4 separate regions of the Homo sapiens genome follow, and all the other regions are linked to region 2. The links come from fine-mapping of genetic effects on gene expression. A gene starts in region 2. Each other region holds a variant in brackets. All regions are shown on one strand. Distances are between the middles of the regions. Region 1 overlaps SMPD3 (sphingomyelin phosphodiesterase 3). Region 2 holds the start of SMPD3 (sphingomyelin phosphodiesterase 3). Region 3 overlaps SMPD3 (sphingomyelin phosphodiesterase 3). Region 4 overlaps SMPD3 (sphingomyelin phosphodiesterase 3).

The links.
Region 1: its variant is fine-mapped to the expression of SMPD3 in esophagus mucosa (GTEx, PIP above 0.99).
Region 3: its variant is fine-mapped to the expression of SMPD3 in pancreas (GTEx, PIP 0.94).
Region 4: its variant is fine-mapped to the expression of SMPD3 in thyroid (GTEx, PIP above 0.99). The same link has a PIP of 0.9 or more in tibial nerve.

Annotation. Positions count from the first base shown.
Region 1 is chr16:68,420,747-68,428,223 of GRCh38, reverse strand. All of the region lies in intron 1 of SMPD3 (sphingomyelin phosphodiesterase 3), which reads left to right. Among named protein-coding and RNA genes, the nearest start is that of SMPD3, 24 kb to the left of the region's middle. The variant T/C (reference allele first, on the strand shown) is at 4,825.
Region 2 is chr16:68,444,676-68,452,152 of GRCh38, reverse strand. It overlaps SMPD3 (sphingomyelin phosphodiesterase 3), which reads left to right and starts at 3,645. Exons shown (of 9, transcript NM_018667.4): 1 at 3,645-3,800. LOC124903705 (a long non-coding RNA gene) reads right to left here and starts at 3,313. Exons shown (of 2, transcript XR_007065097.1): 1 at 3,087-3,313; 2 at 8-2,988. RefSeq lists an enhancer at 3,278-3,327 and a silencer at 3,428-3,947.
Region 3 is chr16:68,412,856-68,420,332 of GRCh38, reverse strand. All of the region lies in intron 1 of SMPD3 (sphingomyelin phosphodiesterase 3), which reads left to right. Among named protein-coding and RNA genes, the nearest start is that of SMPD3, 32 kb to the left of the region's middle. The variant G/C (reference allele first, on the strand shown) is at 3,774.
Region 4 is chr16:68,359,263-68,366,739 of GRCh38, reverse strand. It overlaps SMPD3 (sphingomyelin phosphodiesterase 3), which reads left to right. Exons shown (of 9, transcript NM_018667.4): 4 at 1,648-1,723; 5 at 1,834-1,989; 6 at 2,874-2,963; 7 at 3,181-3,244; 8 at 4,981-5,137; 9 at 5,433-7,477. The coding sequence ends at 5,534. It also overlaps a transcript of PRMT7 not described here. Among named protein-coding and RNA genes, the nearest start is that of PRMT7, 52 kb to the right of the region's middle. RefSeq lists enhancers at 2,548-3,359, 3,360-4,172. The variant T/C (reference allele first, on the strand shown) is at 3,748.

The DNA.
Region 1 (7,477 bases), 24 kb after region 2:
CTCACAGGGCCTTTGAGCTGGAAAATCTTGGGTCATTAGCCTCTCTAAGTGAAGTCAAGTGAGTTTGTCTCCATGATGTTTACTTCCCTGCTCCAAGGATGAGGCCTTGGCTGCTCAGACACTCCAAAGCAAACATAGAAATGGGGTGTGGATGAAGGTGGACATAGCTCATGGGAAGTCTAAGAAGCTGACAGAGGCACAGGAAGATGCTTCCCTGTGGGTAGATCCACTAAGTGGCATGAGACCCTCCCCTCTCTGAAGTCTTCATCTTTCCTTTGCATTTCTGGGTCTCGAGCACAGGGAACAAGGGACTGGATCCTCAGGTGAACCTGTCTTGTACCTGCCCCCGCTTGCCAAGCTCCTCCCGTCCCCTCTGTCCTGCCCACTCCCTTCCTCCTTCCTTTCTCTGATTCGATGTTTCAGCTCCCACATTTGGAGGTGACTGCTCACAATGCATCAGCACCCCCCCCCAGTCATTTTTAACTCCCCATCCCACTCCTGTGACCCAAATGTTAGATGTTACACAGTTCTCAACCCAGAATCATCTTGTTGACTTCTGCCCATAGCACTAGGGTTGTGCTGTCCGGTATGGGAGCCTCTAGCAATGTGTAACTATTTAAATATAAATAAATAAGATTAAATTAAAAATTCAGTTTCTCAGTCACCCAAGCCACATTTCAAGTGCCTGATAACCATGTGTGGCTACAGGCTACCATATTGGACAGTGTCGAAACAAAACATTTCCATCACTGCAGAAAGTTCTGTTGGACAGTTGCTGCCAGAGCCTCCAGATGTCTTAGGGTCCCAATTCTTTCACTAGATGCATTCATTATTCCTCCCAGTTCTTCCTTGCCGTCTGGCAAGTTTGACGATACAGAAAAGTGGTAAGATCATCTCTGAAATCAGATAGACCTTAGTTTAAGGCTGGGCATGGTGGCTCACGCCTTAATCCCAGCACTTTGGGAGGCTGAGGCAGGTGGGTCACATGAGGTCAGGAGTTTGAGACGAGCCTGGCCAACGTGGTGAAACCCTGTCTCTTTTGTATCTGAAAATACAAAAGTTAGCCAGGCATGGTGGCACACTCCTGTAATCCCAGCTACTTGGGAGGCTAAGGCAGGAGAACCGCTCGAACCCCGGAGGTGGAGGTTGCAGTGAGCCGAGATCTCACCACTGCACTCCAGCCTGGGTGACAGAGCAAGACTCTGTCTCAAAAAAAAAAAAAAAAAAAAAAAGATAGACCTGAGTTTAAATCTCTGATTTAAAATAGGCTGCTGAGTGGACCTAGGAAGCCTCAGTCTCCTCATCTGTAAAATGGGAATAACCATATTGACCTACGTGGATTGATGGCAGGATTAAATGAGTAAATTTAAAGTAGCTGGCAGAAAGAAGCACTCCACAAATGAGGTTATTATTATTCTTGTTATTAATAAAAAGTTGAACAGCCCAGTGTGAGGCTGAATCCGTATGAAATATTTACATGTGTACACACAGTCAGGGTTGGAAAATGAGTGCAGTGACAGAAACAGCAATGACGAATGTACATCTATCCCTTGGCCTCTTGAGGATATTTCTATTTTGGGTGCTATTTCCACACCATATTGATTTTAAATCAATTGTTAAGAGCTTTTCATTGTTTCACAGTTTTCAGAAGCATGTCTCTCCTTCAGATATTCAGTAGCTCCCCCTGGCAACTTTCATCAATGAGTCACTTTTATGGAGGCCAAGCAGTAGGGACAAGCTACTAGGTCAGCCAGGAGTCAGCTCCAGGCCACTGTGGGGAGACCCACAGAAGCTTCTTGACATGGTCATGAACTGGTTGTCAGTGTGACCAGGGTGAGCCAGCTCACCACTCTTTGTTTTCTCTTCCTCCAGTCTCCAGTCCCCATAATGACATAATAAATGGGGTTGTCAAAGATCAAATAAGGTTATTGAATCAACATTCATTTCCTTGTGGGTACACCTGTGTCTGACATCCGTGGGGCTTGGTTCTACATTAAGCCTTAGTAGATTCTCCGTTCAAATGTTGACTAGATACCTGATCATGTAAACGTCCTATTTAGAACTATGCTATGCATCTTGCAAAAGTGGAACAGGATTATTGATACTGTAGTAGATAAGATGGCTAAAATAGAGCCTCTATTTTATTTTCACCTTTGTTGTGTCTTAAGTCTGAAGTTTATTTTCCTTGAGGAAAATCTAGCCCATCATCAGCACTAGGGATCCCTGCTTCTTTTTAAGCAAATCCACTCTCAGTGCTCCCTTAGCATCCTCCACATGGAATCCTCTGTGCTGGGGGTACATTGTCACCTCAGAGACACACATGTGATTGACTTCCTCGCGGCATAGTGCAAGGGAGGAGGGCTGACAAACCCAGGTGTTGTTCCTTCTGGGTGGCACACCTCTCCCTCTCTTTCAGCAGGGAGTGCTTGTTCTCCAGATCCCCACCACCCAGCCCCAGCCTGGGCTGGCCCGAGGCCGGATATCTTGCTGAGTATCCCACCACCCTCCCAGCCTGCAGATTCACCCATCCTTATTGCCTCACAGTGCTAACAGCAATCTGAAGAGCTTAGGGTCAGCATTGATGTGTCCCATGGCGCTGCCACCTCCCTGCCCCTGTCATCACAGCCTCCTTGGTTTCTGCCCATCCTTCTTCTGACTCTGGCTCCTTAGGGCCCGCCCCCCCACCCATTGTCCTCATGGCATCCAGTGGAGTTTGCCTCCTGTGGCTGTCACTCTGCAAAAGCCAAAGACCCTCTCCAAGAGATGAGGAAGCTGGGCCCCTTCGCTCCCTCCTACTGATTATTCATGTGAAACCTTGGAACCATCCAGCTGGAGGAGACCCTCTTGGCATGCAGGGCTCTTGCCCCTGCCTTCACCCATCCCAAGCAGTCTATTTCTTTTGAATAGGAAAGATTCTCCCTCACCAGTTCCAGCCTTGACTTCGGTGCACCTCCAGAGACATCCATGAAGTTCTGTTTTGATTTCCCATATACAGAGAATTGACAACCAAAGGTCTAAAGCCAGAGGTTCTAATTCTGGCCCTTGTAAGCCCTACTATCTGATAAGTGGGAGTGAGTGCCATGACTACCAACCCACAGGCACCATCCCATCAGCTGAGGCCCAGGCCTCTCTTCCACATCTTCCTGGGAGGAGGTTTCTGCATCTTTTATTAGGGACTGTTTTCTTAAGAACATTCTTCTGGTTTATAATATAGCCAGGCGCAGTGGCTTATACCAGCAATCGCAGCATTTTGGGAGGCCAAGGTGGGCAGATCACTTGAGACCAGGAGTTCAAGACCAGCCTGAGCAACTTGGTGAAACCCTGTCTCTACCAAAAATACAAAAAATTAGCCAGGCATGGTGATGTGCACCTGTAATCCCAGCTACTCAGGAAGCTAAGGTGGGAGGATCACTTGAGCCCAGGAGGCGGAGGTTGCAGTGAACTGAGATCATGCCACTGCACTCCAGCCTGGGTCACAGAGTGAGACCCCATCTCAAAAAAAAGAGAAAACATTCTTCTGGTTTATAATAGAGTCATGAAGACAGTAACTTTGCAAGAGAATAGAGTCATCAAGACAGTAACTTTGCTGATGCCTGGCGTGGCGCTGAACCATTCTGTGTGGATTCTCCCATTTCATCCCCTCAGCTGTTGTATGATGCAGCTACTATGATTACCTCCATTTTACAGATGTGAGAATTGGGGTTCATAAGTAAAATTACTTTTCCCAGGTCACTGTGGAGTCAGGCCCAACATGACTTGAGGGTCTGACTGTTCGACCATGATCCACAGGCCCTTGCACACAGGACCAAAGCTCTGCAGGCAGTGCCCAGGAGTCACAAGGGTCTCTGCTGATGCTTATTCCCCCTACGGCCCCTGCAGCCCCATTGTGGAGGGGCAAGTGAAGAAGGCAGAAGGCAGACTTAATGCTGGGGCTGGGAGTTCAGGATTCAAAGCTTCAAGATGGTATCTTTAGGATAATTACATCCTGCCATGTATACACAGGAGTAAGGACATGGCAGTACTCCTGGCCAAAGAGAGGATTCAGGAGAAACTGTTGTTCCCACAGCCAGTGACCAGGGCAGGCTTAGCCAGGGGGCCTAGGACCCTCTGGCACCCTAGGACCACCTAGGCCCCCTGGCTAAGACTGCCCTGGCCATTGGCTAACTCCTTGGGCTTTGTGCAGGGAGGGCCTGACTGGGCAGGTGACGTCCCCAGGCCGAGCCCTTGGTCACCTTGGGCCATGTCCACCCTCACTGTGGACTGTTCACCGCCACTGAGGCCTCCAGACCTTCCATCTCCCCAGCACTGCTCTGCTGGGTGACATCACCGCCTCCTCAGCCACTGCTGGGGTCCAGAACCACCCACATCAGCCTCCATAACTTGTTTCACTTGTGCCAGTCTGTTCTTTCATGCTCAGAGTGCCCCACGGGGTCTGGAATAGTGCCAAGCTTAGGAAGTACCTGCTGGTGGGTAAAAAATGAGGTGGTCCTAAGCTCCTTGGCTAAGCCTGAAGCAGAGATCTGGGGTTCAGGAACAAGACCAGTAGGAAGAAAAAGACTCAACCCAGTTTGCTGGTGTCTTAGTTCATTTTCTATTGCTGTAACAGGACACCTGAGACTGGGTAATTTAGAAAGACAAGAAATGTATTTCTTACAGTTCTGGAGGCTGGGAAGTCCAAGATCAAGGGGGTCGCATCTGATGAGGGTCTTCTTTCTGTGTCATAATATGGTAGAAGATGGAGAGAGATAGAGAGTATGCCAGCTCAGATCTCTCTTCCTCTTATAAAGCCGCCAGCCCCATCATGGATCCCCACCCTAACTACCT[T/C]AACTAATCCTAATTACCACCCATAGGCCTCACCTCCAAATGCCATCAATATATGAATTTGGAGATTAGGTTTCTAACACAAGAAATTTGGGGGACACATTCAAACCATAGCAGCTAGTAAGTAACTCTCTGAGGAATCCCAGGAAGCATCTTCAGCTACTCAGAGCAAGGTCACAAGAAGGGAATGATCTTTGAGATCCCTTTTGTGCCATAAAGGAGGTGACAAGGAGGCCAGAAAACCTTGGTCAAAATCCTGACTCTGATGCTAACTTGAACCAATTACTTCACCTCTTTGAGCCTTAGTTTCCTCAGCTGTAAAATAAGGTAATACCAGTGCCTGTCTCTTAGGTTGTTGTGAAGATCACTGAGCTAATAACTTTGAAAATGACTGTGAAGCCCCCGCTGAGAACTGTGGAAAGGTTTACCATTACAACTAAAATCCTCTAAATCAGGCTGGGGCTGTATATGTGTTCAATGGTTAAGGAAACTGGTGCTTTTCAAGGAGACTCCAATATTCTAGCTGAAAAGGACCTCAGAGATCCTCACATTAACCTCCTCACTTTAACGAAGGAACCAGTGCAGCCCAGCCCAGAATCTCCCAGCAGCCTACACGCCACCTCTTTCTCTGCAGCAGGTACACCCAGGGGAGGCAGAAACTCGCCCACTATTCCCTGGAGGTTAAAATAAGGAGACTGCATGGGAAGCAATTTGCAGTCATCTCAGATCTGTGGCTAAGGAGAAAATTCCCTCCCCTTTTCTCCAAACCCTCAGCATCATCAAACTAAACAACCCCTCAGTGGGAGGTGGAATTCTTCACCACCAGTTCTCACCTGACTGGAGGCCTCCAAGCAGCTGGGCCTGTACTGTTTTTTATTTCAACAACAGCAAAACCTTCTTTTCCTCCCTCTGAGCACTTTACTATACTCTGTTTCCTGCACATTCTTCCAGCTTCTTGCTCAGGGGCCTTATACGTCTATCTTGTCCAAGCACCTGCCCAGATCACAGCAAAATGAGAACCAGGCCCAACATCCATGGCTTTCCCAGTTCTGGGCAAGGGAAGAGGTTAATTCAGATTCCATGAGGGCCTCTGCAGAATCACAATATTTCCTCACCTAGGATAAATTCCACCTCCTTCTGAGGATTTCTGCTGTAGTTTGGTGATGCTGAGGAATATGTTATCTTACAGTTTTGGAGGTCAGAAACCCAAAATCAATTTCACTGAGCTAAAATCAAAGCATCAGCAGGCTGGTGTTCCTTCGGGAAGCTCTAGGGGAGAATCTGTTTCCTTCTAACTTCTAGAGCCTGCCTATATTCCTTGGCTCCTTGCTCCTTCCTCCATTTTCAAAGCTTCAGCCTCTGCTTCCTTGTCATCCTCTTCTTCCACCTTCAGCGGTCTTGCTTCCCTCTCAAAAGGATCCTTGTCGTTACGTTGGGCCTATCTGGATAATCCAGGCTTCTCTCCCCATCTCAAGATGCTTGACTTAATCACATCTGCAAAGTTCCTTTTGCCACATAGAGTAGCATATTCACCAGTTCTGGAGATTAGGATATGGACATCTTTCAGGGGCTACTACCAAGTCTAATAGGCAGGCCACTGGACCCCTAAGCCTTGGTTTCATCAAGCAAGTAGGGAAGAAAAACAATGCCCACCCCTAGACTCTTTAATGGGTCGAACTCAATGGTGCCCTGGAATGTCAATGGCTAGGAATGGAGGCCGAGCTATGAGTATCAGGCCTCATTCCCTAGCCAAGTCAAAGAGATGTGTCTGGGAGGTGGTAGAGTGAGGGAGTGGGGCTTGGACTTAATTGTTTTACTGGACATGGCTTCTTCAGGTGTACTGGGGGAGTGGTTTGCACAAACACTGCCAGGTTGGTCATAAGTCTGTCCCCCTGGCTCATTGCCATGCTGGCTTTGGCTCCATTGCCTCTGGTCTCTTCATCCCCCACCCCACATACCTATCTTCCTGTGCTGTCATTCCAAAGCACACATATAACCACGTCTCTCCCTTTTGTGGCTCCCCCTCATCCTTGGGTGGAGGTTCAAGCTCTTTACCTTGAGTTACACAGTCTCTGCCATTCCCCACAAGCGCCAGACAGAGCCACAGAAAGCAGGTGGCAGATGTGCGAGGGCAGAGCTGGGAATGGGGGTGAAGCAGATGAGGGAGGATGGGGATACTGTGCAGATGGTGTTGCAGGGACGGGCCTGACTCCAGGGGCCCCTGTGTACAGAGGCAGTTGGTGCCGACATGCTGGTGGTCTCTGGCTGTGAACCCAGGTGGGCCAGTGAATGAGCATCAGGTAGAACCCAGCCCATCAGAGCTGTTGGCCTGGTCCTGACTCAAATGGGAGTGGCTTCTGGGTGCTGGTTATTGTTCTGAAGTCTGGAAGGACAAGAGGGGAAGTCTTTTCTCCACAAATGATTTTGGCCAAACCCCAGGGATGGAGAATGCCCACTAGGACCTGGATGAGCTGAAGGCCATAGCTTGCTGAGGGAGCGATTTGGTCTCTCTCTGCATTAGCTGAAGACATGTTGAAGTGGGTTCAGGGCCCCCACCTACCTGAGTCACCATCATGAAGCTTAATTAATGCTTACAAAGTGCTCTGAGGCCTTGACTGAGAGGCCTCATGTGAACACAGAATATCCTTATTAATCA
Region 2 (7,477 bases):
ACTCAGATTACCCAAGAAATTATCTCCTGTTTATTCATGGTCAAACCAATTTCTGGTAATCCAAGAAGAATAATGTGAAAACAGACTAACATTTGGTAAGTGCTTAATATTTATAAAGTACTTTACATAAGGAATCTCATTTATCCCTTATGACATTTTCAAATAAACAGACTGCAAATCCAAGGAGGTAGTTTAGGCAAGGTCACACAGCTAGTAAGTAGCTTTGAATTTCCCTACCTCCACCCTTAAAAAAAATTTCTTTTTTTTTAGAGACAGGTCTTGCTCTGTCACTCAGGCTACTAGAATGCAGTGGTGTGATTGATCATAGTTCACTGCAGCCTCAAACTCCTGGGCTCAAGCAACCCTCCCACCCCAACCTCCTGAGTAGCTGGGACTACAGGCATGCGCCACTGCACTGAGTTATTTTTTTTTTTTTTAATTTTTAGTACAGGCAGAGTCTCACTATGTAGCCCAAGCTGGTCTCAAATCCCTGGCCTCCAGCAATCCTCCTGCCTTGGCCTGTCAAACTGCTGAGATTACATGTGTGAGCCACTACACCCAGCCCCACCTCCAGCCTTATTAGCTGCTACCTAACACCAATAAACAGCATTTTACAACTGAAAAAACAGCTCCAGCCCAGGATCACACATCTAATCAGAGGCAAAGTCAGGATTAGGATCCAGGTTTCCTAACTCTACTTGGCTGTGCAGATGCTGTTATAGTCTCTGGGTGCTGCCAGAATTGTGGAACCCTGACTTTTTCCTATTTATAACAATTTGCCAAAACTGAAATTGGATTCCAGTGGTAGATGGATGGTGGTACACTACTTCTGAAGGGGTAAACGGACCTCCACAGGGTTTCAGCTCTGGCTTCAGGTGGACTTATTTGGTATCCCTCTGCAATACTCGGGTGATACTCTGCTGATGCCCACCTGGTGGCATGGTCCTCCCTGATCCACTTTTCCAACAGCCTCTGCTCTCACTGCATCCACTGAATGAGGCACTCTGCTTTAGCACACGTCCCATTTCCCCCTGCCTCCTTACCGTTTTCTCTTCAGTAATAAGACCCCATCTGTTCACCCAGCTCCAATTGCCTTCCCTGATGGTTTAGCCAGGATCAAAGCCCCTCTGCCATGCCTCTTAAAGTCCTGTTGGTTCTTCCCTAAATGCCATCTGTTTTACTCACTCCCCCACCCTAGCCTTCCCTTCCTGGATGTTACTAACTCAAGGATGACAGAGCTGCTTTCTCTCAGGCTCTGTCTCTTTGGTTTGAATTAGGTCCAGAGTAAAAGTCCCCTTGGTTATTTCCTTCTTGGCCATGAGTTAATTATTCCCATATATTAAGGCATTCTCCCCAGAGTGTATCAGCTGACATACACAAAAAAACATCTGGAGAAGGTGATAAAATGAAATGTGTAGATTAACTAGGCCATCTAGCCAACATCAGAATGTTTAGTGGAGAAATATTCAGGAAAGATGCTACCTAGCAAGGTGGGACATCACCAATGAGGCCTAAGATGCTGAGCAGAGGGTTGAAAGAAGAGCAGGAGGCCGGGCACAGTGGCTCACACCTGTAATGCCAGCACTTGGGGAGACCAAGGTGGGCCTAGGTGGCAGAGGCTGCAGTGAGCTGAGATCGCGCCATTGCACTCCAGCCATTGCACTCCAGGCAACAAGAGCGAAACTCCGTCGAAAAAAAAAAAAAAGAGAGAGAAAGAAAGAAAGAAAAAAGAAAGAGCAGGAATCTTAGGACATCTTTACTTCATAACTGACAGGGCAGAAGATCTTTCTCAGAAAAGGAGTGGGAGGTAGGGCATTTAGGCACAGAAACGAGTAGGGCCAACAGCTAGAAATAGCGGAACATGAAGAACTGATGACATTTCAGGGAGAACTGACAGGAATAATAGGCATGGGTCTATCAATCTCTAGCATCATAGGATTAAAAGGGTACTCAAAGCATTCAGGTAAAATCCCAACCCACTGTACAAATGAAATAAACATTTCTTCAAGGGGGCGGCATGCCTCTAACTGAACACCTCCAGCAATGAGAAATGCCCAACTTTAGGAAATCAGAGTTTTGGAGGTGTATGTGAATGAGGTTCCTTTATTTTCTTTTTTTTAATTTTATTCTTTTTCTCTTTTTTTTTTTTTTTTTTTGAGACAGGGTCTCACTCTGTTGTCCAGGCTGGAGTGTAGTGGTGCAATCTCGACTCACTGCAACCTCCACCTCCCGGGGTTCAAGCGATTCTCCCGCCTCAGCCTCCTGAATAGCTGGGATTACAGGCACGTGCCACCACGCCCAGCTAATTTTTGTATTTTTAGTAGAGACTGGGTTTCACCATTTTGGTCAGACTTGTCTCGAACTCCTGACCTAGTGATCCACCTGCCTCGGCCTCCCAAAGTTCTGGGATTACAGGCGTGAGCCACCACGCCCGGCCCAATTCATTTTCAATTCAACAAATATCTATATTTATATCTCAATAGCTAGTGAGTGCCTACTACGTGCCAGATACTAGACACTGGACTGTAAGTATGAATAATATAGACATGGCCCCTCCCCTGTGGATCTTATAATGAGGAAGACGAGCACATAAACATGCAAGTAGAACAGGGGAAGTAGAGGGTGCTGCTCAAACACAGGGTGGGGCACTCAACAGACAGCCCAGCATCTAGATGTCTTCACAAAACAGGCAATGTCTAGGCTGGGGCTTGCCGACGAGTTAGCTGAGGGCAGGGTGGAGAGGCCCAAGGGAGTAGGAGGCTTCCCAGCTTCCAAAGAAGTTAAGAGTGTTGCAAAAAAGTGGAGTCCAGATCTTGAAGGGGAGAGTGGGCTTAGGTCCGGGGGCATGTGAAGCGCCCTCCGTCTGCTGCGCTGGGGGAGATGCTGCGGTATCCTGGAGTGGTGTGAAGGAGGCCAGGACCTGCGATGGGAAGACGGAGACGGGAAGGCCCTGGTGGCCCAAGGGATGACCAAAAGTGAAGCGCTCCTCTATGACAAGATTGAGACAAAAATAAAGGAATAAAGTTCTGAATGCGGTGGGAGAGTCTCCTCCGTCCTCCCTCACCTTTGCTGGGCAGGAACCAAACCTGCTTGCCCTCGGTTTGCCCCATCACCGACGGGTGTGGTCGGGGGCACAGCTCTTCGCCCTTCTTCTCAGATAGGAAAACTGAGGCCCAGGGTCCTGAGGCAGAAATCAAGGTTTTCTCCTCGAAATGGCCTCCCAAGAGGCTGCCCGGGGTCTCACACGATCCTTCGAGGGTCCTGCGGCCTGCCCCACGCCTCCGCCAGCCATCCTCGGCTGGTCGTCTTTGCTATGGAAACGGTCCTCCCGCCCTGCTCCGCGCCTCCGTGTCTTCAGTGCACTCTGGGAAATGCAGTCCCGCTCTGTTTGCCTACCCGCGGCGTGAGCCCACTCCGCGTCCTTAAAGAACTATAAGTCCCAGAAGGCTGTGCGAAACTCCGCCGGTCTCTGGGGGATGTGGTCTTGAAGGAGAGACCCAGGAACCTGCGGGCGGGGCCGGAGGGAGAGGGGAGGACGCCCCCAATGGGCAGACTCCTGGGCGGGGTCCGGGTCACCATTGGCTCCGGCGGCGCGAGGGAGGCGGGGTCAGAGGAATGAAGCGCGGAGCTGTTCGCCGCTCCAGGTGCTGAGTCTGAGGGAGGCTCCGGACCCGAGAGCCGCGAGAGCCGCCGCCGCTGCGGCCGCCGCCAGATCTGCGGCCGGGAGCCCGGGCTGTGAGGAGCCGGGAGGAGCGGGGTGCGCTGCCGGGCGCTGACCGCCCTCCCGCCCGCCGTCAGAGGTCAGTGCTGCTGAATTCGCTTTTGTTTTCTTGGGGAGCGGGCGAACCGAGGCGTGAGGGGCTGGGGAGTTGACGGGACGTGTTCTCGTTGCTCTCAGGACCGCGGGTCCCGGACAGCCGCCGACTGACTAGGGGCCTCCCGTGGCCGGGCGCCGGAGGTCGGAGCAGCTTGGGTTAGTTTTCGTTTTATCATGGAGAAGGCTCTTGGGTATGAGGGGCGAGGGCTGGGGGTCACCCCCACCCCCCATCTCTCCTGGGAGAGCGAGGAGGCTTGGACCCTCCCTCCCGCTGTGCCTGGCGACGGGGCTGCTCGGATTACTCAGGACGGGAGGATGAGGTGTTGTGGGATGAAGGGACTCGAGGCAGGGGGACCCCTCCCCGCAACACTTCGGCTGCTCGAGGTTACAAAGGAGTCTGGTGGTGATGGATGAGATCGCGGACCGCTCCCCTAGCCCAGACCCTCCCAGGGGTATTCAGGAAGGGCTGCTTGGGATGCAGGGAAGACCCTTGCCCAGGCCCCTTCCTCCACACTCGCCCCCCTCCCTATTCCCCCCTCCTCCCTTGGCCCTAGGGTTTTGTAAAGAGGAGGATCGAGGATGTGGAAGAGACAGAGGACTCTTACCCCTCCCACTTGGACCCTCCTAGGTTACTGGTGAAGGGTGGAATTGGAATGTGGCAGGGAAACGCTGGGAGACCCCTCCCCATCCTTCTCGGAGTCGCGGGTGGAGGAAAGCACTGACACTCGGAATCCCCCGCGCTCGGGCCCGCGCCGAGGGTTGGGTGGCCTGGGTGTGAGAGGTAGTGTAGGGGGATGTACGAGGACAGGAGGGACCCCTCCCCACCTCTCCCCACCTGGGCCTTATCTCCCAGGCCCTCCCTACCTGGATCCAGGCCTGGGGCTCTAAGTCGAGACGACCCGCCCTAGCCCACCACGCCCCGGGGACCGAGCCTCTGGCACCGCAGCTGGGGGCCAATCCCAGATGGGCATGTACAGAGCGGGACGGGGCGGGTCTCCCCTCAAGCACTCAAGAGCTCCAGGTAGACGCTACCCCCAACCTCGTGCCCGCGAATCTTTGGGGGCTGCTCCGCTCCGATGCAGGGCGCACCCCAAACCGAGGCTCGGGGACCTGCTTCCAGGACGCGCGGTGGCTGTTCCAAGGCATGGGGCTTTCGCGCTCGGCCCAGGCATCCTCGAGAGGACAAAGCGGCGGTCGCCGCACTGGCAGGCCTGCGCCGCGGGCTGGGCGGGGGGCGCGGCCGCGGAGGGGGGGCTTCGGGCGCGGCGCGGGCAGCTTCCACGGAAACGTGCCAGGAGCGGGGCGGGAGACAAAGCGCACCGGCTTCTAGCGGGCCCGCGCGAGCCGGGATGGAAAATCCCGAGGGAGGAGGCGGCTGAGCCAGGGCAGGGCACTATGCCCCCACATCTTTCCCTTTTCCCATACCCCCTACCCTAAGGCCAGCCAGGCACCCAGGATTCTGTGCACGCGATGGTGACCAGGGCCCCTTCGGGGGCCGAGAGTGGGGGTGTTCAGGACCTGTGACCACTAGGACAGGGACAGGTGGGGGCTCCACCTTGAGCAAGGGGCCTGGAGTTCACAGGGCGTGAGTGGGCCAGGGTCCAGAGGGACATCCTGACTGGACCCTCCCACGCCCCATCAGCCATGTTAGGTCAAATTTGGTTCTGGGGAGGGGATGTGTTTAAGTGTGTGAGGGTTTGCATGGATGATGGTGTGGGTCAGAGTGTGGGTGTGAATGTGTGTGACTAGATGAATGTACCCATGTGTGTTTCAGTCTTCATGTGTGTGGCACGGCCAGAGCTTGCGCTTCGGGCTGTGTGTGTGTGTGTGTGTGTGTGTGTGTGTGTGTGTAGATGAACCACTTACTCATTTACTGATGGGCTTGGATGTTGTGGGGGTGGGGAGCAGGGTAGTCACATCTTTAACTCTCAAGCCACAGCAATGACCTAGGGTCCGAGTGGATGCCCTCAGGGTGAAGGTAGCTTCAGGTTGCTTTGTGCCTAGCCTGCCTGGCCTGCGAAAGGCCCAGTAAGTGGGGAATTCACAACTATGTGGAGCCTTCTTCAGCCCTTCTGAGGTCTCAGGTCTGACCCTGACATACTCACCAGTGCCCTGCCCTTCCCATTTTATCAGAAGCTTTATCCTACTGTAATAGGCTGCTCCAAAGACCAGAATTCTGCCCCCTCACCACCACCATGTGTTTCCAAGTGAGGCTTGGCAGGGGACTCATCAACAGAGTCACTTATGATGTGGGTGCAGGACTACGTTGCAAGGCAACTTTTGTCACTTTGGCCTCCATGTCTGGAAGGGCATGGCGCTGACGTTGCTGGTCAGTCACAGGCAGTGTCTCAGAAATACTAGGTGTCTCAGAAATACTGTTTCCTCAGAGAGGAAACAAGGGTAACACAGACATACACTACAAGGTGATACCCCTAGAGGATAAGCATGCCCCTCCCAGACCTGCCCTCCCCAATAAGTGACCCTGATTTCACAGCACTTGCATAGCAAAGGTACTGTGCAGCTTTGAGATAATCTTCACAGAGATCTACTTCCCATAGGATGAGAGACCAGATGATGGCCAGGAGAACAACAGAAAGAGCAAGTACTACACAATGTAGCCACCATCTATCTAGCCCAGGCTGCCTGATCCAGTTCCCACAAGTATCCACTCCCAGTGTCCACAGCGACCTCTGCTGGAAAGAGGTTAAACCAGTCACAATTTGGCAACTAACACTCCCCCATGGTGTAGAGGCTCAGAGTGAGTGTGAGCATTGTCAGGTAAAATCACAAATCTTTCTATTGGGGGGCTCCCTCCTACCTTCAGAGTGTTGAGTTGATGTTCTTGTCTGAAGTTCTTTCAAGCTAGTTCAAGCCATGGAATTGCTGCTGTCTTCACCTCTATGGAAATGTTTAAAGAGGGCTTGAAGGTCTTTGTTCAAGTTTCTGACCAGTGGAAGGTGGGCATCAAACCCATTTATAAGGACAATGCATGGAAAACACTTATCAAGGCCAAAGAGATTTAGGCATCTCCTGTCTCTACCTCTACCTCTACTACTCTTTTCTCCTCTTTCCCTGTTCCACATTTATCCTCTTCTTTCTGTCATTATTAAATTAGTCAATAACATTTTTCAAAGGCAAGCCCTCTTTTCCTCAAAAACAATGTAGCCCAGAAAATGAAGGCTTCTGGAGGCTATTACCAAATGCAAAAAGCTGCAAATACGGCTTTCCAGGCCTAATGACAGAAGTGGGGGAGAGAGATAAGACATGCTCAGTCCTAAATACCCATCTGGTGACATGTGTCTCTTCTCCTGGAGTTACTCTGAAGGAATTTCTTGCAGTCACAAAATCCTAAGAGCTCTGCAGCTCTGCAAAGGAAAGAAGGTATTTTAATACCTGGTATTGTTCTTACTTTGGCATCCATGTGATTTGCATTGAACTATGTGACTCAGTATCATAAAGTAAAAATAGGACTTAATCTCTTCCTTGCCTGTTTGGAAGGTGACTGCATATGGTGTGTTGTATTCTGCATTGGAGAGTGAAAAGCTAAATTGCCTCATAAATTGAACCACCTGCTTATCCTGATTAGAATGGTGCTTAACATCACCTACAGGCAATAACGTTATTTTATGTTTCTTTTAATTTATACCTGTATCTTTGTCT
Region 3 (7,477 bases), 32 kb after region 2:
AATTGTACCTTTTTCCTTATAGGATTGCGAAGTTCAAATGAAATGGATATGAAAGGTGCCTATAGTAATGATATTAGTAATAAGAATAATGGCCGGGCATGGTGGCTCACACGTATAATCCCAGCACTTTGGGAGGCTGAGGCAGATGGATCACCTGAGGTCAGGAGTTCGGTACCAGCCTGGCCAACATGGCAAAACCTGTGCATGCCTGTGGTCTCAGCTACTTGGGAGACAGGTGGGAGGATTGCTTGAGCCTAGGAGGTTGAGGCTGCAGTGAGCCAAGATCACACCACTGCACTCCAGGCCATGTGACAAGAAAGACACTATCTCTTAAAAAAAAAAAAAAAAAAGCAATAGCTATTCGGGATACTACATGTTCCAATAATCAGCTACTCTGATCCCCACTTTACAGATGAGGGAGCCCAAGAACAAAGTGACCTCCAAGTTCCCACAATTAGTGATAGGTGGAGCTGGAACTCAGGCAGTCTGGCTTCAAAGTCTGTTCTCTCCCCCACTCTCTGATGCTGCCTTTATCATTAGTGTCATTATACTCATTTTAGGAGTAAGGCTTCATTATGGTTGTCATCTTCATCATCATCATTACATGGGGTTCATGGAAGCTGGGCCCTGGGGCATCTGTGCTATGTTGGAGGTGAGGAGGGTTCTCTCTATCTTCCATAGGAAGGGAGGAAAGTTATTGTTGTCAAGATAGAGGTGAAGTACATGGTTTTTCTCTTACCAAAACTCTGGAGATGCAAGGAAATGTGTAACAGGATTTGAGGAAAGACAGTCAACAGATGTTGGATGCTGCATCCCCATCCTGCCCCATCCCTCTGGCTAGGCGTTGAGGGGGACATTGTCCCCACATGTGATATACAATGAGCTGCCTGTGGGTGATAGGGCAGTAGATTCCTGGCCACCCAGCCATCACCTGTTTCTCCCGCACTGGCTGATCCCCCAAAGGAAGGTTCCAGAGACCTGACACAAAATCCTCAGTCTTGTTAATGTGCTCAATGCATGTTCCAGAACTTCAGCCAGTCCCTGCAGTGGGACCCTGGCTCAAGCGCCATCAACCTTGACTTCTTCCTGTCTCATTGGTGGCCATAGCTGCTCTGGGCAGCTTCCTCCAAGACCCCCCGACCCTCCTAAACCAGCCTTAGAGGGTATGGTCCAGCATCCCTTACCCCTCCAGGACTAGACAGCCCAGCCAGATACTAGCTGTGGCCCCTAGCCACTACTTCTTCATCCCTCTCACCTCTCCTGAGGCCTATTTCTACAAATAGACCATACTGGGGCCTGCCCTGTACCCAGCTTTGCCCTCATGCCACACTCTCTCCATCCTGTCCTTGACCCCTTCCTCAGCATCCTGCACTCACACCATCCCTTTCTCCCCTCTAGGAGGATACATCTAGCAGACCCATTCTAGACCCAGCATACAGAAGGTTCCCTGCTCTGGCCTTCTCATCACCCAAAAGGACAAGAAAGTCCAGACCCATCTTTAGACAAGCTCAAGACTATGGTTCAGGCCCACCTGACATTTACAAGGAGACAGAGCCAGGGGCAGGCTTACTTTAGAAATGAACAAAAGAGTTTCCCAAGCTACCTCCCCTTTGAAATGGGCATCCCTGTTCTCATATGGGATCCAAACTGGTTTGCAAGGTAACGTGTGGTATATGGGGTGCTAGTGTAGACTATAAAATGCATTGAATCCTCCTCTGCTGCCTGCAGGGGGATGTGATGTCAACATGGATGTTGTTCTTTGCCTTCCCCATTTGCCTTTTGGGGAATATGTCCCTATCAGGAAAGTGAGTCTCTCACCCTAGGAAAGCTCTCTACTTTAAAAAATTTAGTGCAATTCTTTTTATATCAGATGGTTATATTTAAAGTATTCAAAGGCCTAGATTTGCATCGTCTTGGTTAAATTACTCATCACCCATCTCTCATCTACAACCTTTTTTTTTTTTTCATTTTATGAAGGCTTCATTTACATAAAGAGTCTTAGTTTTCCTCCAGCCAAGTAGGTGCTCATTTCTCTTGTGGGTATTTGAGTCATGTATCTACCTGCCTGGATGAACTCGGTGGGCATCTACACGGGACCTTCTGCTGCGGCACACCGTCTGCTGTGAGCTGCAGGTGCCTGGGTAGGCATCTTTCTCCCATGAGAAAGTGAAACCCAACAAGCCAGAAATGCACCTTGGCTGACAGCCCGCACACAACAGGAAGGGAGTGGGGGCAGATCCGGCAACATGATAGGGCACTTTCTTGAGAGCACAGGATTTTATAAAAAGTTGTTATGAATGTGTACCATTTATTGAGCACTTGATATGTACCAGGCATGTGCTTGTTGTATTTTTCTTCAGAATAATTATGTGATGCAGGCATCAGGCCCACTCCTTGGCTGAATAAACTAGGGCTTAGAGAAGTTGTAACTTGGCAAATGTCCCAGAGCTGGTAACCGGCAGACAGGTCTGTCTGACACCACACCCCCATGGCTGTATGTATGTGTTTACTCATTTATACCCTACTTCATTCCACGCAGGGTTTGAGGCAGCTCAGACGGAGCTGTGTGATATAGCAAAACGACACAAAGAACAATAGCAAGGAAAGCACGTTAAGGGAACTCTGAAGGTACCAGCATCTTTGTCTAGTAGCGTGTAGGTCTAGGACTGGTCTCCAAGCTTCCTAGCAGCCAAAGCAAAGAAAGCCCAATCTCTTCCCCAGTTGTTTGTGTTTGTATCATAAACACAATCCAAACACAGACCAAAGGCCAAAAGAAGCACAATATTTCCTAAGTCCAAGTTCAAAAATAAACAAATGTCTCTCAAGTGGCTCCTTAGGGAGGCTTGAATGCAATAAAAGAGTAACAGTAGAACAATTGAGGGGGCTTTGTCAGCAGCCCCAGCATAGCAGGGCCAGAGTGGCTCTGGAGTGGGGTAAGAGGCTATCAATCAACCCAGCCCCTCTTAGCTGAGTCGGGATAGCTGTCATAGCCTGGGTTCCCTGAGTGTGTGCGAATTTGTTGATGAGTTCAGGGAAGTGAAGAAGGCAGGATCAGGCAGATGGAGAAACAGACCCAGACTGTGGGTGCAAATGAGACCTCAGCAGTTCTACAGGGAACTCAGGAGCTGAGATAGCTCCTCAGAGTTGTCCCAGATGGGGGCCAAGGGACCTGGCCTTGGTACCCCCTCCCCATCTGCCAATCATTCAGAAAGGGCTTAATTTTGAGTGAGGCAGTTTGCCTCAGCTGAGGGCAATGCCTAGGGAGGGACACAGCTGTGAGATGTCCCCAGTACCCAGGGGATGGGTGCACCAGCCCTGAAGACAGGGTCTAAGTGGAAACCACGGCAGCCACCCCAAAGAGCCCTTGGGTACAGCTTTTGTGACTGAGTGCCCTGGCAATCAGGAAGCAGCTTTCCAGCCACAGAGCTCTCCTGGGACTGAGGCATCTTCCAGCGACACGGGCCTCCCACCTAGACCTGACAGGCCTCAGGACCAGCCAAGTTGCCCCTGGAATATAGCATGGCCTATGCTCTGACACACCTGTGCTCTGACCCACCGGACAGATAGGGCTTGAAGCCCCAGTGGCTGCATGGGTGACAACAACTTCAGCCTGGAAACTATTAAACACTCACCTAAGGCACACCTACCTACATTCACACAGCTTCAGAAATAAAAGCGCCACAAAGCACCTGGCTTTAGCAGTATTGTTACTTCCTGGTGAACCTGCCAAGGTAAACTGTTTGCTGAGCATACAAGGACGAGGCAGAATAAGG[G/C]AACAAGTTTGATGTTGCTGTTAAGAGGGAAACTGCTAGGGTTAGAAGACAACAACGGCCTTAGATTGTGTAAGGTTTGCCGGTAACATTCTGGACAGGAGGGTAGGAGGGATTAGGGAGAAACCCAGCTGGGCGGTGGCAATGATTTGTGGAGGGAAGAGTGGGACGGGAAGTAGAAGCCTGGGACAACTCAGGGTCGGAGGCCCCAGAGAGAGGGAGATGGGAAGGGGCTCACAGGGAACAATGGGGAGACCAGGGAAGAGGGCGAGGCCTAGAGCAGGGGAAAGGGTCGGGCTCTGAGCTATGACCCATGTCAGTTTTCATTCACAGGAGTTCTCCCTGGCCTGGGCCCAGCAGGAAGCGCTGGCACACACCTGATTACGGGCACAGTGGCAGCAGCAACCTGTTACTGTCCTTCATAGAGGTCTGGTCTCAGAGTCTTGCAGGAGGCAGAATCCACAGTTCCATCCAGGTTTCCATTTGGTTCTGCCTGGCTCTTCCAGCAGCCCTTGCAGCGCAGATGTTGTCGGTTTGAATCTGATGTGATGAACTCTTTAAATAGCTACCCTAATGGATAATCAATCATTTCAGAGCTTTAATACTAAATCAGGCCGTTGGACACATCTGGGGGCAAAGCTGTTTGTAAAGGAGCCAAAAACTGCCCTTTCTCTTTTACTTTGTGAGGCAGAATATGTCACATTAAATACCTAAGGGTCTAGGACAAGTCTCTTGTAACCTAAAAAAAAAAAAAAAAAGCTGAAGAGGTAGACTCTTCAAGAGTCTGCAAATTACATATGAAATTTGTAGATCTTTTTAAATTAGATTCTTCATCTGAAGAGTATAATGAATAGTAAAATAGAACCTCATGTTAACATTTAAAATAAGCATCCGCTATATATATTTTTGCTATATTTTTAAAAGTCAATATTAAAATAATACAAACACAGTAGTCATGGTTACACTTTTCAGGTTACCTAAATTTAAAAGGTACTGGAAGAAAGAAATTTTAAGCCGTAGGTTAACGTTTCCGTAGACAGATCTCCTGAAAATGCCTGGGAAGCCTGCTTTGAACCTTCTGTCCAGGAAAACAAACCATCTGCAAAACTGCAGAGTTGGCTCAAACTGCAGCTAGACCCTCAGCATTGCTGAACGGGCAGAATTCCCCACAGTTTGACCCAGTGATGAGCCCGGCCTCTCAGGCATCCCCTTACTGCCTGACCCCCAAGGACTCTTGCCTCAGGGACCCACTCCACGCTCTCTAGCCACCTCTCTGCCCACTCCTTGGGTTTCTCCACAAACCCAAATGTCAGGGACTCCAGGAGCTTCTTCCTGGCCCTCTTTGGGTCTCACTCTGAACTCTCCCCATGGGATTTTATCCACTCTCTGGGCGTTACCTGTAGGATGCCCTTGCCTACCTTTCAGTCTCTGGCTTGAGTTTCTCCCTAATGGCACAGTTTATGGCCCATGTTCTCATGGATCCACCTGGATGTCCGCCAGCCACCTTAGTTGTCACCTGCGCATCTCTGACTCATCATAGATGCCCAAACCCACAGCACCCATTCCGTCTCAGATGAGGCCTCAGCATCCACCCAATGCATAGGTCAGAGGCCTGAAAGACCCCCTGCTAGGCCCACTCCCTCTCACTGTCACTGTCACACCAGCCATTGGTCCGTCAGTCTTCCAGATTCATCATCTCCTGCCTTCTGTCACCATGTCCCTGGGTGACCAAGGCCACCTCCTACCTGGCCCTGCTGCCTCTGAGCCTTCCCCTCCCGGCAGCCCATGTGGCCTTTGTAGAACACAAATCAGGGCATGCCACTCAATCTGATGTCTGCAGGATCTGGCTGCTGCCAGCCTTCCTCATCTCATGCCATGCCCTGTTGGCCAGAGCCAAGAGCCAGCACTTTCCCCTACAAGTCTTTGTGCATGCCATTCCTTCTGTTCCTGCTTGGACACAAACCAGGACATGAAGACTGGCTCCTACCTGTGGGGCTTAGAGGCCTCCCAGGCCCAGAGTCTCCCACCAGGAAATCTGACTGCCAGACCTAGCATTAGGACTGACTCCATCTCCCAAACCCCCTCCTCTATCCTCCAGTGGGTGGCCCAGTGTGGGAGAGACCAGGCTGAGCCTACCCCACAGGTGGGACTGCACATAATTGAGCCCGGGTCAAGCCTTGCTAAAGAAGGGTCACAGACATTTCTTACATTCCGAAAGATACTTTCACAGATTTCCTCCAAGTTCTGAATTAATAAAGAGGAAAGTGAGGCTTTTACTCTCTAGGCTGTTTTCAAAATATCCTATTGTCCTCCCTTCTCTTGCTCAGCTTCACAAAAGCAGTGAAATTCCAAGTGCCCTTTTAAAATGTCGAAATAGCCATCTTGAAGTTATTTATCTTCCAGCTGGAAGGACTTCACAGGTCACCCAAGCCTATACTCAGCCTAGCCCTGTTAGACTATGGGAACAGAGTTGGGTGGCTGAGGTGGGGACAGAGACCAGAGCAGGGAATCTGTCTCTACCATAGTCTGGCAGCGCCATCCTCAGACTCTGTATAGCCAGCGGGCCAACCTTCATCTGTCCACACCTCAGGTGGAAAGTCACAGCTAGGATGGTGAGAAGGTTCTGAGTGTCCACCCACCCAGACCTTGACAGGAGGTGCCCCAGGCCCTTCAGGAGAGCACCAGAACAGCACCAGAGCATGCCAGGTTTTATATTTGGTGTGTAGCAGCTGGTCAGGGATTCTGATCCAGGACTCCTGCTCTGTACAGCCCATGCTCTACCCATTAAAATCACTGATTTCATGTCCTTGAACCTACAAACAGGAATTTAACACACAGAGGGGAGAGTGGAGAGGGGATTATTATGAGCTGTTTCCAGAGGAGGATTAGACCATTTTTTGGATCCATTTCAATGCACTGCCACGTTTTCATGACTAGCCTGGAGTTCTGAGTCCATATATCTTTTTATAGTTTGACCTTTACACAGGAAAAAACCTCAATGATTTTCCACTATTTTGAATAAGCTGAATGATTTTCTATGTTTTCTGAATGATTAAGGAATGAAAAAACAGAGCCTCTCATCATCAAAGGCCTTGAGGGATAATTTTCTCTGGAGGACAGGGTTCACAAAACTATCTTCCAGGTGAGCCAGTCCCTTCCTCATGATGGAGACCTCCTGTTGGATAGACCAGCTATCTTGCAGCTATCTTCCAGCTGCAAGGCTTCACAGCTCATGCTTTCCCATGTGGAAAGGGGAGCTTTATCCTGGAGCAGAGGCAGAAGAAGGGCCTTCGCCTCTCAGAGTGGCCAAAGCTATGGAGGCCAGGGCAGAAAATCGGTCCCCACAGTGAGCTGATGGGACAGTGACAGCCATCACCACCACCCTGGAAAACATCACCGAAACTCAGGCCCTGTGCATCCAGCAAAGCCTCATTCACCTGGTGTCAAAGAGCAGGCATTCCACATAGGCCCCAGGCCAAGGACTTGAGCCACGCCAAGGGTGAAAAGAAAAAAGCATTAGCGGCATGAGCTGGGATACATCACTTCAGCTCTCTAAGTCTGTTTTCTTTTCTATAAAATGACATAGATAATAGTTACTTGTAGGATTGTTAGGAGGTTAACATGTTTAAGATGGTGTGTATGTAGCAGGTACTCAAAAAATGTTCTTCCATCCCCTCTTCAAATGCCCAACTTTTAAAAGCACAGCA
Region 4 (7,477 bases), 85 kb after region 2:
CTGTGCCCAGCACACCCGGCTAATTTTTGTATTCTTAGTCGAGATGGGGTTTCATCATGTTGGCCAGGCTGGTCTCGAACTCCTGAACTCAGGTGATCCACTTGCCTCGGCCTCCCAAAGTACTGGGATTACAGGCGTGAGCCACCGTGCTCAGCCTCATGTGGCCTTTTGAGCATGGCGGCTTCATCAGTGTTTTGTTTTTGCAGCAGAACCATCAATGCTGCGTGATCTCACAGAGCCATTCGGGGGGCGGGGATGCTGTTAGGCTAAGGTTTGGGTCTGTCTGTGGGCAAGAAGTGAATGGTGAACCTGTGGGGCTGAACAGCCAGACGTTCGTACCCCCAGGTGCTGGGGAAGGAAGGCTGTGCATTAGGGCTGGGAAGGGGATGAAGAGCTGTAGAAAGCCAGGGGCACCTGCTGCTGAGGACGTCCAGATGGAGGAGATAATACCAGCCTGACCGACTGCAGCAGTGAAGGAAGGACGGAGCCTGCCGAGGCTGTTGGAGCAGATGGGCTGTGACGTTTGGGCTGCTGTGAGCTCCACAGATGTGGGGCACCCACCCTGCGGCCCTCTGCCCTCAGCCAACAACTGGGAGAGGCAGTGTGTCCTGCCCAGCCACCTCCCTGGAGTGCTTTTTGGGTCTGGGGTCTCCTCATCTTGGGAAACTCAGTCTGGAATGGATTTGCATGGCTTGGGGAGGGTACAGAGGCACAGGAGGGAAGGAATCCCAGGGGCAGGGGATGAGGAGCTGGTAAGCGGCCTCTCTGTGCAGGGCATCTCTGTGGCCATCCCTCACCTCTCCTGGGCTGAGCACTGACAAGGGCTCCATCTTGCCCCCACCTGGGGTAGGGCAGTTATGAATTGCCTGCAGGGTACAGTGGAGATGCTAATTTGTATTAAGCCAGCCTTTGGGATCCTGCCAGGGTCACCTGCTCCGTCTTGGGTAAAGGAGGTAAGCAGGAGGTCGGGGCAGAGGGGAGACCTGAAGAGGATGCTGCCACAGTGGGCTCAGGATGGAGCCAGGGGTGTGCAGGGGCCAGCCTAGGACACAGGTCAGGGAGCTCTCATCCAAGACGGGTGACAACGGGACCACGGCCTATAAAGCAGATGACTCACCATGCAGCCAGAAGGCGACGAGGCCAGGAGGGGCAGGGTCTGGGCCTCTTGCTGTGTGGGGTGGGCTCTGAGGCCACGCCATGGCACAGGGGCAACCCCCTGAGATTTCAGGGGGAGAAAGCACCAGGGTGTGACCAGGTCTAGGGTGTAACTGAGGGAGGGAGGAAAGAGCCACAGACAGGACTGGACAAGGAACTGAGAGCCGTGGCCACGCTGGTCACTGGGAGATGGCAGGGCCTGGGCCTCCGGGGAGCCTTGCTGCGGTTCGGCACTTCCCCCATGCTTTGCACAGATGGCCGCCAGCACTCCCCACGCCACAGGCCAATAGTTTCTTTCAGCACCCGCCTCTGGCCCAGATCCGTAAGTCCCTAGAAGCAGGACACATCCTGTCCCTACTCGGACCCCAGAATCCAGCCAGGAGCCAGGCTTGTGAGGGTCTGACCTCATGGGTGGGTGGGCACTGCCAGTGTCCTGTGCTCTCAGGGCCACAGTGACTGGCAGGTGGCAGCACTGACCCCCTCCTCCCCCAGGTGCAGGTGGGAAGCACACCTCAGGACCAAAGAATCGTCGGGTACATCGCCTGCACACACCTGCATGCCCCGCAAGGTAGGGTTGCCGCCCACCTGTGTTTTTTCTAGGCATGGGATCAGTGCCTGGGGCCTAGCTGGGGTCTGGGGCGAACTTCATCATCCAGTCTCTGTACTTCTGCCCTGCAGAGGACAGCGCCATCCGGTGTGGGCAGCTGGACCTGCTTCAGGACTGGCTGGCTGATTTCCGAAAATCTACCTCCTCGTCCAGCGCAGCCAACCCCGAGGAGCTGGTGGCATTTGACGTCGTCTGTGGAGATTTCAACTTTGATAACTGCTCCTCTGGTGAGGCCGGGCTCCTCCCCACTCAGGTCTCCAGCTCTGGGGAGGCTGTGGGCTCAGTCACAGCTAGACAGACTTCGTTAGGCAGCTCAAAGAATTCCTGCTCCTCGAGAGCATGTGGGCGGGGTATTTAGCAAGACTGATTTCTCTGCCCCCTAGAAATCCTAGAACAGGAAGAGCCCACGCTCTGCCTAGAAAGCTGGAGACAGAGATGCCCTAAAAACGAACCTCTGACAAGGAAGGCTGGGGGCCTCTGAAGCAGACAAAGGACGAGTCCACTAGTAACACCCATCAACGGGGCGCCGCGCTCTTGCTTCGAGCCAGCTGCCATTCTATCGCTGTTTCACTTAAGTGTCTTAACAACCCTGAGAGGGAAGCATTGCATGTCTCCACGTGGTGTGGTGGAGGAAGCTGAGACTCAGAGAGGCTGGAGAACCAGCCCAAGGTCACATAGCCAGGCAGTGATTGCACTGGGATCTGAACCCTGGGAATTGCACCTTAAACCATTAGGGTGAAAGACTACAAGCTCGTCATCAGTGAAACAGCAAACACTTGCTGTAAATAACTGATCTGTGGATCCGATGACCACATGGACCTTGTGGGGACCTTCCTTCCTCTGTCCGAGGACCGTGGTCACTGTCACTGTCCTCAGAGGGAATGCTGAAGATCAGGGCGTGTGCTGGGGGAGGTGTTCTCAAGGACACAGAAAAGCAGCGACAAATGAAGCACGGGGCACCTGAATGGGACTGAGATCCCACCCAGGGGCAGTGGCCTAAGGGATGGGGGCCTGGCAGCACATGGGGAGTAACTGATGGGAAGCAGGGGCACAGGCCGTGTGGGACAGCAAAGCCCCCTGGTGCCTCAGCGTTTCCTCCCTCCCCGCACAGACGACAAGCTGGAGCAGCAACACTCCCTGTTCACCCACTACAGGGACCCCTGCCGCCTGGGGCCTGGTGAGGAGAAGCCGTGGGCCATCGGTGAGCTGGGGCTGGGGGAGGAGGATGGGAGCTGGGCTCCCCACAGACTTCCCTCAAAGATCACCAGGACCTACCCCACAAGACCCCACTGCTGGGGAAGGGCCCCATTCAGCTGCCCCTGGCTAGCAGAAGCCCGTGTCCACCCACAGAGGCCACCCCCTAGAGGCTGCCTGGGCCCTGCCTGCAGCGACCACTGTCACCCCCTCGTCCCCCCCAGGTACTCTGCTGGACACGAACGGCCTGTACGATGAGGATGTGTGCACCCCCGACAACCTGCAGAAGTAAGCACTGCGCTCCCAGGCCAGGGACGAGGCACACCCTGACTAAGGTGGAGACAGGGACTGGGCAGGACCCACATGGGAGAGCTCAGCTCGGGCTCATGAGGGCTTTTATTTGGCAGAAACCTGTCCCTCATCTCACCTTTGAGAGCTTTTGAGAGCTGGGAGCTGGGCCAGGCAGGTAGACCTCACGCCCTCACGCCCAGGGGTACTGGCCTTGCTAAATCTCTAGGGGTATTTCCCAAACCTGTTTTCAGGAGCTAGCCCTGCCCCGAGCCCCTGCCTGCTGGGTACAGGAAAGGGCCTGGAATTTCCCCCGGGCCAGGCCACAGGTCGACCCCCATGAAAGAGCTGCTGGGTACGGCGCCTGCTGAAGGCAGCCTGGCAGCTTGCAGCACCAATCAGGCAAATACAGACACCAGCTGCAATAACACAGCCGACCATTTTCAAAGTAGAGACAGTTCCATCCCAGCCAAAATTCATTCTTGAGCCCAGTAAGATGTCCA[T/C]AAAGAACACATCTGAGAGGCCAACAGCAGAACCAATTTATAATTCACAGCCCGAGACTGCAGTCACAGCGATGGTTCCTTGCAGCTAATTTGAGCCAATTAATTAGATTATAGACTAAATTTGAAACATCATCCTATGCTGAGAAAATTCTTTTTATGAGATGATGATTTAAAAATGACTACCAGTAGCTCTCAGATCATTGATGCTGGAATTAATTATCAAGGGCAAAGGACAGTGATGGATTCCATTTCTGAGCTGTAACAATGTCCTGAATGTCATTAGTGTATTTATCTTAAGGCTGATGAAAACCTTGTGGAAGCCCATGTTTGCAGGCCCTGCCTCGCCGGGTGCCCCTTTTGCATCCGTCCAGGCACTCACAGACCTGGCGGCCTTTGCAGGGTCTCTCACCACTGCACTTGCCATCCCAGGCCCTGGCCCCAGCCTGCCCTCTGCAATGGGGGCTCCCAGGAGGGGGTCCTAAGCCTCTGGCCCAGTGGTGCTGAGGCCCCAGGGGACAGGCTGGCAGGAAGCAGACGGGCATACTGCTTGTCTCAGGGCAACAGTGCCAGAAAGGGATTCCAGATGTCACATCCCCCTGCTCCAGCGCCCTGCCCTCCCTGTGGATCCCCTAGCACCATCATGGGTTTCCTCACTCAGAAGCGGGATGACAGCCTGTTCCCTGAAGCGTCTTGGGGCCCACAGCAACCATTCTTGTTTCAGAGGAGGAAACAGAGGCTTGGAGGCTTGGTAACATAAGCAGAGTCACACAGCCACGTAGGGACAGCCCCATTTGAGACTCCTCAGAGGTGCTCTCCTGGCTCCCTCAGCTCCTGTCAACCTGGGAACAGTCACAAGGGTCCCCGAGACTCATGGCAAAGACCAAGCTCCTCAAAACAGGCCCCTGTTGGCTCAGGGCAGAAGCCCATTCTGGGGAACGGGTGGGATCAGTTCTGTCCGAGTTCAGAAAGGGAAAGTGAGTGCTGGCCAGGCTGGGGCGGACAGAACACTTCGACGGGCTCCGGAGCCCAGATTCAGCCAGGAACCCACAGGCAACTCGGCCTACCCCCAGCTGAGGCCCTTTTTGGACCCGCAGGGGAGAGATCTTAAACCCAGCGCTTTGGTCCCACCCACCCGCTCCCACACTGGGAGGAGACCATGGCTCCACACACAGCCCCTGCCAGGCCCACAGGGGCGGGCATGGGGGCCCACCTGCCTCCTGCATGTGTGGACAGGGTCCTGGAGAGTGAGGAGGGCCGCAGGGAGTACCTGGCGTTTCCCACCAGCAAGAGCTCGGGCCAGAAGGGGCGGAAGGAGCTGCTGAAGGGCAACGGCCGGCGCATCGACTACATGCTGCATGCAGAGGAGGGGCTGTGCCCAGACTGGAAGGCCGTGAGTCAGGAGGGCCCAGCAGCCAGGGCCATGCAAAGAGAGAGCAGGGCCCGGGCCCTGCAGCTCTCGACAGCCGCTCCCTGAAACCCCACGCCCCAGGCCACTCTTACAATGATACCCATCACTCCCTCAGACCCTTAGGGCCCCAGGTCCTCCAGGCCCCATCCCTCTGACTGCAGGAAGGTCCCAGCCCACCCCAGCCCCGGGGCCTCACTTTGGGGATCCCCAGGCCGCTCCCTGCAAGATGCCCTTGGAATCTGACCAGGCTGTTTCTCCCCTCTCCCACTCACCCCAGGAGGTGGAAGAATTCAGTTTTATCACCCAGCTGTCCGGCCTGACGGACCACCTGCCAGTAGCCATGCGACTGATGGTGTCTTCGGGGGAGGAGGAGGCATAGACCGTCCGGAGCAGCGGGGCCTCTGCCAGCCCTTGCAGCTGCAGCCCATCCCTGGGCCATGTCCCCTCCATCGAGTGCCCGGTGCTTGGGGGAGGAGGGCAGGGACAGGGAGGGAGCCACAGTCAGTGCCCGGGAACCTGGAAGCTGCGCTGCTCTGCGCCTCTGGGCCTCACTGTGGACAGAGGAGTCAGGCCCGCCCCAGGAGCCTCCAGCTGCCTAACCAGTGCCATTCTTTCACAACACGATTTTCTACAAATCTACAGCACAACCGAGTTTGTAACCCGTGGGTTAGTATGAGGACCGGGTTCGTGTACTCTCTGTATCTCCTCTTAAGCTTCGTCCAGGGTTCTTTATTTTTGTCTGCTGCCAATGTCGTCTCGCATGCCTGCACCCTCGCATGCACGCTGCCCGCATGCCACGTGCCACGCTGTAGCCACAGACCCCTTGCTCGGGCCTCACCCAAGGCCAAACTCCAAACACAATCAGAACCAGCCAAAGAAGCACTTCCTGGGCACGGCCACCAGCTCTCCCGCCTCCAGTGTGGGCCGGCTCCTGCAGGGTCCGAGGGCTGCATCTCTACCAGCCAGCCCAGGGCTCTTCCCAGGGTCTCGCATTCAAGGGCAATTACATTTTAAAAAGAAAAACAGAAAAAGGTTAATCACAAAACCAACCCTCACTTCACAGGGTCTGTAAGTCACTCATAGAACTTTGCTCTTCCCGAGACAGGGTCCCTTCCCCAGCTCAGGCACAACAGAGTCTGGCAGGCTCTGGCACCCTGGGCCTCCTCCGGGAGCCTCCCATCTGGGCAGTGGAGCCATAAACGGGGATCCGAGAAGAGAGTATCCACTTTTTTTTTTACAGGAAGAAGGGACTCACAGCATAAACGGGGGTGGGGGGGATCCTGATTTTGAAAATAATCTATTTGTAGCTTCTCTTCTATCAAAACCAACACATCCTCTTCTTTCTGCCAATCCTCTCCCCCACGGGACACCTCTCTGGTTCGGGACCAATCCCTCCCTGGGGACGTGCCCCACCTGCGTGCCGGCTGAGCTCAGGAACCCCTGCCTGCCCCCCGGGTGGGGCTGCGGCTCTGGCCTCCCAGGCCCATCCTCAACAGCTACCCCAGCCAACACCAAGGCCACAAGGGGACCCCGGCCTAGGAGGCAGGAAGCCAAGGTGCAGAGAGCAGCCTGGCCCTCACCAGTGCGCAAGCTGGGGCAGCAAGGCTGACAGTTGCTGCATGCCCAGGGCAGGGTGTGGTACTGGCACCCAAGTTCAGCATGGCAGAGCTGGCCAACAGCTTGTGGTCCCCGATCTGCCTCCAGCCCCAAGATGCCTACAGCCCCCAGGCCCCTTCGGCAGCACTGCCTCTGCCCACCTGCCTTTAAGAGACTCCAGGGCTGCTCCTGTCATGCAGCGAAGGTTTTGTCTGTTTCAAAGTTCGAGACTCAACTTGAGGGACTGTTTTTGACAATCCCCGCTGACCTCCGCTCCTCGTGGCGCCCTGGCCCTACACCCAGCCTGGCCCAGGGCCGGCTTTGCCTGGTGAGGCTGGAGGGAGCACCAGGACCTGCTGTCTGCTGTCAGCCCCTCCTGGTGCTGGTGCCCTGATGCTGTGCCTTGTCACCCATTGAGCTGCAAGAGGGACCAAGAGGGGGCCACGCAGCCAGCCAGATGCCTGGCCCTGTGCTGGGGCAGACAACGCTGCAGAGCCCAGGGAGCCTGGCGCTAGGACGTGCGTCCTTGTGACACTGGCCTGTCTGAACTCACCTGGCCTGGGAAGCACCGTCTGCCCGGGCCCAAGCCCTGCCCCTCCAGAGTCCAGAGCCAGGAAGGGGCTGCTGAGGGCGAGCATCCTGCTGGGCTCTCTGCCCGGCCCACCCCTCCAAGGGGCTGGCCTGTGAGCCTTGACTGGGATTCATGATGTGGAGGCCCCCAACTTC